Homo sapiens: one gene and its partner. The protein of the gene in region 1 interacts with the protein of each later gene in a biochemical or structural test. Each region holds a gene or a part of one and is shown on either strand. Other genes may lie near its edges.

The links.
Region 2: the proteins of SOX10 (region 1) and NFIC form a complex in vitro, tested with the Homo sapiens proteins (one study listed by BioGRID).

What each region holds. Positions count from the first base shown.
Region 1 is NC_000022.11:37,978,056-37,981,864, forward strand, and holds part of SOX10 (transcription factor SOX-10), read right to left. Parts: intron 81-3,809; coding exon 1-80. UniProt on the Homo sapiens protein: Transcription factor that plays a central role in developing and mature glia.
Region 2 is NC_000019.10:3,376,519-3,380,327, forward strand, and holds part of NFIC (nuclear factor 1 C-type), read left to right. Parts: intron 1-3,809.

The DNA of each region.
Region 1 (3,809 bases):
CCGGGTGGTCTTTCTTGTGCTGCATACGGAGCCGCTCAGCCTCCTCGATGAAGGGGCGCTTGTCACTTTCGTTCAGCAGCCTGGGGTGTGGTGGGAGGCGGAGAGGACAGCAGAGGGGCTGGCGTGAATGCCAGAGCACTCCAGGTTGGCCTCCCTCTGAGTGTCCATCTTGGAAGATGTGAGGCCCTGGGATGGGGCACCCAGAGGACAGGACCCGGGGTGGGGGCTGTGCCCTATGATTTGTGGACTGAGAGATGTGAGGCCCAAGGAATAACAGCCTCAGAGGGCTGCCCCCAAATCTTTCATGGGCTGGAGGGTGAGAGAGGGGTCAGCCCGCTGCTCCTGGCAGCCCCTGAGGAGGAGTTAGAAGTAGGAGTAGAGGTTTCAAGGGGCAGATGCCAGTTCAAGGAAAGGAAAAACTTTCTCATCATCAAAGCTGTCTGCAAGTGGAATTGGCTACTTCAGTGGGGGTGAGCTCCCTGGGACTGAGGGTGGGCAATAGAAGCAGCATGGCTGGGGGAGAACTCAGTCTCTGCTACTTACTAGCTGTGTGTGTGACCTTGAGCAAATTACTTCTCTGAGCCTGAGTTTCTTCACCTATAAAAGGATGATAACATTGGCTTAACTTGGGTGTGGGATTGGCCAGAATAATGGATGTGAGATGCCTTGCACCAGGGCCTGGGAAGCGGGCTGAGCACCTTGAGGAAGAGGTGCTTTTCTTTCTTTCTTTTTTTTTTCTGTGAGGGAATCTCACTCTGTCACCCATGCTAGAGCTCAGTGGTATGATCTCAGCTCACTGCAACCTCTGCCTCCCAGGTTCAAGTGATTCTTGTGCCTCAGCCTCCCAAGTAGCTGGGATTACAAGCATGCGCCACCACGCCCGGTTAATTTTTGTATTTTTAGTAGAGATGGGGTTTCACCATGTTGACCAGGCTGGTCTCCAACTCCTGACCTTAGTTGATCCGCCTGCCTTGGCCTTCCAAAGTGCTGGGATTACAGGCATGAGCCATTGTGCCCAGCCCAAGAGGTACTTTTCTATTTTTAATTTTTTATTTATTTAGAGACAGAGTCTCACTCTGTCGCCCAGGCTGGAGTGCCGTGATGCGGTCTCAGCTCACTGCAATCTCGGCTTCCTGAGTTCAAGCGATTCTCCTGCCTCAGCCTCCCGGGTAGCTGGGACTACAGGCACGCACCACCATGCCTGGCTAATTTTTGTATTTTTAGTAGAGACGAGGTTTCACCATATTGGCCAGGCTGGTCTCCAACTCCTGACCTCAGGTGATCCACCCGCCTTGGCCTCCCAAAGTGCTGAGATTATAGGCATGAGCCACCGTGCCCGGCCCCAAGAGGTGCTTTTCTAATGCTGCTTGCGGGGGTGGTTGGACAGGAGGATCTAGGGTTGGACTCTTAACTCTGGGTCCTGATTGTGTGAATTCCAGTGTGGTGGGACTGAGGGGGCAGATGTGGCTCCTCTTTACCATGGGTCTGGGTGGGGGGTACTGCCTCCTGTGGGGGATCCTATATCCTTGTCCAGAAAATAGCAGAGAGTAGAGGAAGCTAGCCTCTCCTCAGACCCTGGAACAGTCCCTGAAACCAACACATGGAGAGAAGAAGCCCTGAAGCCAGCGCCCTTGCCACCGACTCCAGCCTTAGGCCAGGGTTGGAGGGTGGAGGGCATTTAGGGTTTGGCTGCCCCAGGGTGAGGAGGGCAGGATGGGGTACCTTACAGAGGGGGTCGAGGGGAAAGTCCAGATTCTAGAATCCCAGACCTTGGTACTGAGAATCCATGAGTCTTTGTGGGAGCAGCCTTGTCTGTCAGTCCAGAGGGCTTGTCTCTTCAGCTGCCCCACCCCTCACACCCCAGTGAGTGCCCTCTTCCCCCAGTCAGCAGAAGGCCGAGCCCTCCCTCCCCAGGCTGGGCGGGGGTGGTCATGCCAGGCACCTCCTAGCCGGCAGCAGCATTCCTCTGCGGCTTAGCCTCCCTGTCTACTCCCCCCACCCCGGCCCTGAGCCCAGCCCTAGCCCCAGCTTTCTCAGAGGGTCCCTCCAGCCGAGACTCTGTCAGAGTCAGTGTACACACTTAGGACAAAGATGCCGGAGCAGGGCCTTGAGAGTCAGGGAGTGGGATGTGGGCACCCTCTCTGACGGCTGGGACCAGGGGAGGGGGTGGAGCAGGCCTTGAGGGTGTGACTGGGGAGAACCCACAGAGGAGAGAGCTGCTCCGCCAGCAGTGGACCCCAACAGAGGGGCTTCTGGGATGGCTGGGGACATGGGACACAGAGCTCACTCTTTCACCTATCCTTCCCTTGCCCCCTGCCCAGCTGGCAGCCAGCATCAGCAAGAAAGTGACAGGGGCCAGAAGAGAGAGAGGATTCCAACATCGGATTCCGCTGCTACCTCCTAAGCTAGTTCCCAGCATTAGCCTAACCCTGACAGAAATCTAAGCCTGGGGCCACTGCCATCCCCGACCCCAGCTCCCTCCTCCACCAGCTGTGCCGGACAGCTGATTCCACCTCCACCCCAACCCCAAGCCCAGCCTGCCCACCATGTAAACCCAATCTCCAGCACCAGTCCCCACTCAACATTACCAGCCCCAAACCCCCAACTTCGCCTCCAGCTCTAACTCCAAACCCAGTCCTCATCTGCACCTTCCTGTCAGCCCTCTTTCTCCCTGGTCTCCCAGGTTTGGAATGGGGGCAAGAAGAGGTAGGCTGATTCCTCACCCAAACTGGAAACCCCAACCGGGGACCTCCCACAGTGGGGCACTGATTGCTGCTACCTGTGTCCTGCTAGGCCAGGGGCATAAGAAGACTACTTGGGGAAGGGGCCTGTGGCACTGGGAACAGAGGCTGGGTGACCCCCACCACACAGGAGGGACTCTTGCCTGTGTCCGCCTTTCCAGTTTCTTGGCTCTGGTTCTTTCCAGGCAGATCAGCCAACCCACAGGCACCACCCTGTGATCAGCCTCAACTAGCCCCTCCCCAGATGGGCATCAAAGGTTAGAATGACTGTTGGGGCTGACACGGCCCCTTAGGACCTGGGCTCCAGTGTGTCTGATCCCACACTCCCTTGGGGCACTCCACACAGTCTGTGTGTATCTTTCTCTTTTTGGTTTTAAGACACCTGTTTTCCAGCTCTGCCTACCTAACCACCCCACTTCTTGACATCCCAGGAGTCACAGCTTGGGGAGGTTTCAGGAGAAGCCCCTGGAGCAATTGGCCAGCCCAGCCCAAATCCAAATGTCTCTCAGGACCCCCCTCCAGGGTCCAGGGAGCCACCCTCTGTTGGCATTGCCTTTGATCCTTGCCATGGTTCTGGCCCCATCCTCCCATTGGGATTGGGTCCTCAGCAAGTAGTGCCAGTTTTCCTGACTGCCACACCTCAGGCTGGCCCCTGTGCACACAGCTTGAGTGATGGCCAAGAATAAGTCCTCCTGAAGGGAGTCCAAGCCCAGGGTTCTGGGCTGGGGGAACCTGGGGACAGGGACAATGGAGGAGCCAATCTTAAACCCTTGGCAATGGGAGATGGAGGGAAAATGAGGTCCGTCCTTGCTTTGACTCTCGTTGGGCTCGTACTGTGGTCTTCTCATGGTCCCCAGAGTCTGCCCTATCTGTATGTCTCTCCTGGTTGTCTGTTTCTCACTTGCTCTTTGTCCCCTGGCACTAAAGATACTGGCCTGGGCCAAGCCCCACCCAGATCTGGATGGACCTTGGGTGGAGGAGCTAGCTGTGACCTCTGCTCTTGGGCAGAACTGGGCTGTCTGGGTCCACACAGCGGGCTGGTCGCTGAGCCCTGGGCCTGCCCTGGGT
Region 2 (3,809 bases), on another chromosome or scaffold:
GCCCAGGAGTTTGAGACCGGCCAAGGCAACACAGTGAGTGAGACTCCATCTCTGCAAAAATAAAAATTAGCCAGACATGGTGGTTTGCACCTGTAGTCCCAGCTACTCAGGAAGCTGACGTGGGAGAATCGCTTGAGTCTGGGAGTTCAGGGCCCAAGTGACCTAAGATCGTGCCACTGCACTCCAGTGAGACGCCTGTCTTTTTTATTTATTTATTTATTTATTTTGAGACGGAGTCTCGCTCTTGTTGCCCAGGCTGGAGTGCAATGGCGCGACCTTGGCTCACTGCAACCTCTGCCTCCCGGGTTCAAGTGATTCTCCTGCCTTAGCCTCCCGAGTAGCTGGGATTACAGGCGCCTGTCACCATACCTGGCTAATTTTTTGTGTTTTTAGTAGAGATGGGGTTTCGCCATGTTGGCCAGGCTGATCTCAAACTCCTGACCTCAGATGATCCACCCACCTCGGCCTCCCAAAGTGCTGGGATTACAGGCGTGAGCCACCACACCAGGCTGAGACCCCCATCTCTTAAAAAAAAAAGTAATAAAAATCACAGTAGCCCCAGCACTTTGGGAGGCCGAGGCAGGCGGATCACGAGGTCAGGACATTGAGACCATCCTGGCTAACACAGTGAACCCCCGTCTCTACTAAAAAAAAAAATACAAAAAATTAGTTGGGCATGGTGGCGGGTGCCTGTAGTCCCAGCTATTCAGGAGGCTGAGGCAGGAGAATGGCGTGAACCCGGGAGGTAGAGTTTGCAGTGAGCTGAGATCGCATCACTGCACTCTAGCCTGGGTGACAGAGCGAGACTCTGTCTCAAAAAAAAAAAAAAAAAAAAAAAATCCAATAGCAATATAAGTTGTAATGATAACAATCATCGCATCATTAATAACAATGTAGTCCTTTGAGAGCTGGGGGGAGGAAAACAGCTTTCTGTGCTAGGAAGGGATCACCCCTGTCCGAAATGCCCAGCCCAGCCTGGTCAAGGCAGGGAGATGGAAAGGCAGTTTTGCTTCTCTTTCTCTTCTTGTTCCTTGTATTTATTCCACCTTGAGGCTGAGAAACTAGGTCCCAGATGTTTTTAATTTGTTTTATTTTATTTTTTATTTTTTTAGAGACAGGGTCTTACTCTATCCCCCAGGCTGGAGTGCAGTGGCACAATCACAGCTCACTGCAGCCTCGACCTCTGAGGCTCAAGTGATCCTCCCACCTCAGCCTCCTAAGTAGCTAGGACTACAGGTGTGCGCCACAGCAACTATGCCCAACTAATTATTTTTGTAATTTTTAGTAGAGACGGGGTTTCGACATGTTGGTCAGGCTGCTCTCAAACACTTGGGCTCAAGTGATCTCTCCACCTCGGCCTCCCAAGTAGCTGGGACTACAGACGCGCACCACAAAAATTATGCCCAGCTAATTTTTGTAATTTTCGTAAAGATAGGGTTTTGCCTGCCGGCCACAGTGGCTCACACCTGTAATCCCAGCACTTTGGGAGGCAGAGGCAGGTGGACCACCTGAGGTCAGGAGTTCAAGACCAGCCTGGCCAACATGGTGAAACCCCATCTCTACTAAAAATACAAAAATTAGCTGGGCATGATAGTGTGTGGCTGTAATAGTGTGTGCCTGTAATCCCAGCTACTCGGGAGGCTGAGGCAGGAGAATCTCTTGAACCTGGGAGGCGGAGGTTGCAGTGAGCCGAGATTGTGCCACTGCACTCCAGCCTGGGTGACAAGAGTGAAACTCTGTCTCAAAAAAAAAAAAAAAAAAAAGGAGATGGGGTTTCGCCATGTTGCCCAGGCTGGGATTGAACTGGGCTCAAGTGATCCACCCACCTCAGCCTCCCAAAGTTCTGGGATTACAGGCGTTAGCCATAGTCCCCAGCTGAGATCCCAAATGCTATGCAGACTCAGTTTCCCTTGCTGGAAAATGGGAAGAATGGGAGGGGCCTCCCCACACCCAGACAGGGAGCTGGGGGCCTCCCACTGCCCCACATTTCTCTTCAAGGGGCTGCTGTTATTTTCGTGGGGAAGTCAGATGAGTGCAGGTTCCAGTCCACCTCTGTCCCCCATGGCCGGGTTCCCCCTCAAGGCCTCAGTTTCCTCATCTGTAGCATGGGTGTTGTGACTGCCCTCAGACACCAATTTGTCATGATTTGGGAGTAGGTTGAAGTCCCAGCTCTGGCCCAGTCTCAGCGCCTTCCCAGCCCTCGGATTTTCCATCTCCAGGGTGGGTCTGCAGGGAACGGGGTGGCCCCTCTCCCCAGTTCTGAACCTTTGTGGCTGAGCGTCTGCTTCTCTGGTCTGTTTCTGTATCAGCACAGTGGGTTCATGGAAAGGGGAAAGGAGGGAGAGGACTCCACCCGGGATTTCTCCTCCCTCTGATTAATCCTGGTGCACTTGAATCTCTTATCTTTTGATGCAGAAATCCCCCCACCCTTCCAGCAGCCCTCAACCTCCAGGCGGGCCTAGTGTCTGCCTGTGGATCTCAGCCAGGCCTGTCTGTACATATGCTCTGTAGGAACAAGCTTTCGTAGTCATTTTTTGTTTTTTTGTTTTTTGTTTTCCCAAGATGGAGTCTCGCCCTGTCACCCAGGCTGGAGTACAGTGGAGTGACCTTGGCTCACTGCAACCTCCACCTCCCAGGTTCAAGCAATTCTCCTGCCTCAGCCTCCCAAGTAGCTGGGATTACAGTCATGCGCCACCACGCCTGGCTAATTTTTGTATTTTTAGTAGAGACAGAGTTTCACCATGTTAGCCAGGCTGGTCTTGAACTCCTGACTTCTTGATCTGCCCGCCTCGGTCTCCCAAAGTGCTAGGATTACAGGCATGAACCACCGCGCCCAGCCGGGTTTTTTTTTTTTGAGACGGAGTCTCACTCTGTCGCCCAGGCTGGAATGTAGTGGCGAGCTCTCGGCTCACTGCAACCTCTGCCTCCTGGGTTCTCCTGCCTCAGCCTCCTGAGTAGCCGGGACTACAGGCGTGTGCCACCATGCCCAGCTAATTTTTGTATTTTTAGTAAAGATGGGGTTTCACTATGTTGGCCAGGCTGGTGTCAAGCTCTTGACCTCAAGCGATCCACCTGCCTCAGCCTCCCAAAGTGCTGGGATTACAGGCGTGAGCCACTGCGCCCAGCCTCATTTTTCATTTTTTTTTATTTCTTTCTTTTTTTTTTTTTTTTTTTTTTTGAGTCAGGAGTCAGGGGTCTCACTACGTTGTCACCCGGGCTGGAGATCAATGGCGCAACCTTGGCTCACTGCAGCCTTGACCTCCTGGGCTCAATTGATCTTCCCACCTCAGCCTCCCAAGTAGTTGGGACTGCAGGTATGCATCACCTAGCTAAGTTTTGATTTTGTAGAAACGGGGCCTCGCTATGTCATCCAGGCTGGTCTTGAACTCCTGGGCTCAAGCAGTCCACCCACTGTGGCCTCCCAAAGTGCTGGGATTACAGGTGTGAGCCACCATGCTTGGCCGCCGACCCTAGTTTTTTTTTGTTTTGTTTTGTTTTTTGAGATGGAGTCTTGCTCTGTCGCCCAGGCTGGAGTGCAGTGGCGCAATCTCGGCTCACTGCAAGCTCCGCCTCCCGGGTTCATGCCAATCTCCTGCCTCAGCCTCCTGAGTAGCTGGGACTACAGGCGCCCGACACCACGCCCGGCTAATTTTTTTGTTTTTTTTTCAGTAGAGACGGGGTTTCACTGTGTTAGCCAGGATGGTCTCAATCTCCTGACCTCGTGATCTGCCCGCCTTGGCCTCCCAAAGTGCTGGGATTACAAGCGTGAGCCACCGTGCCCAGCCTTGTTCTTTTTTTTTTTTTTTTTT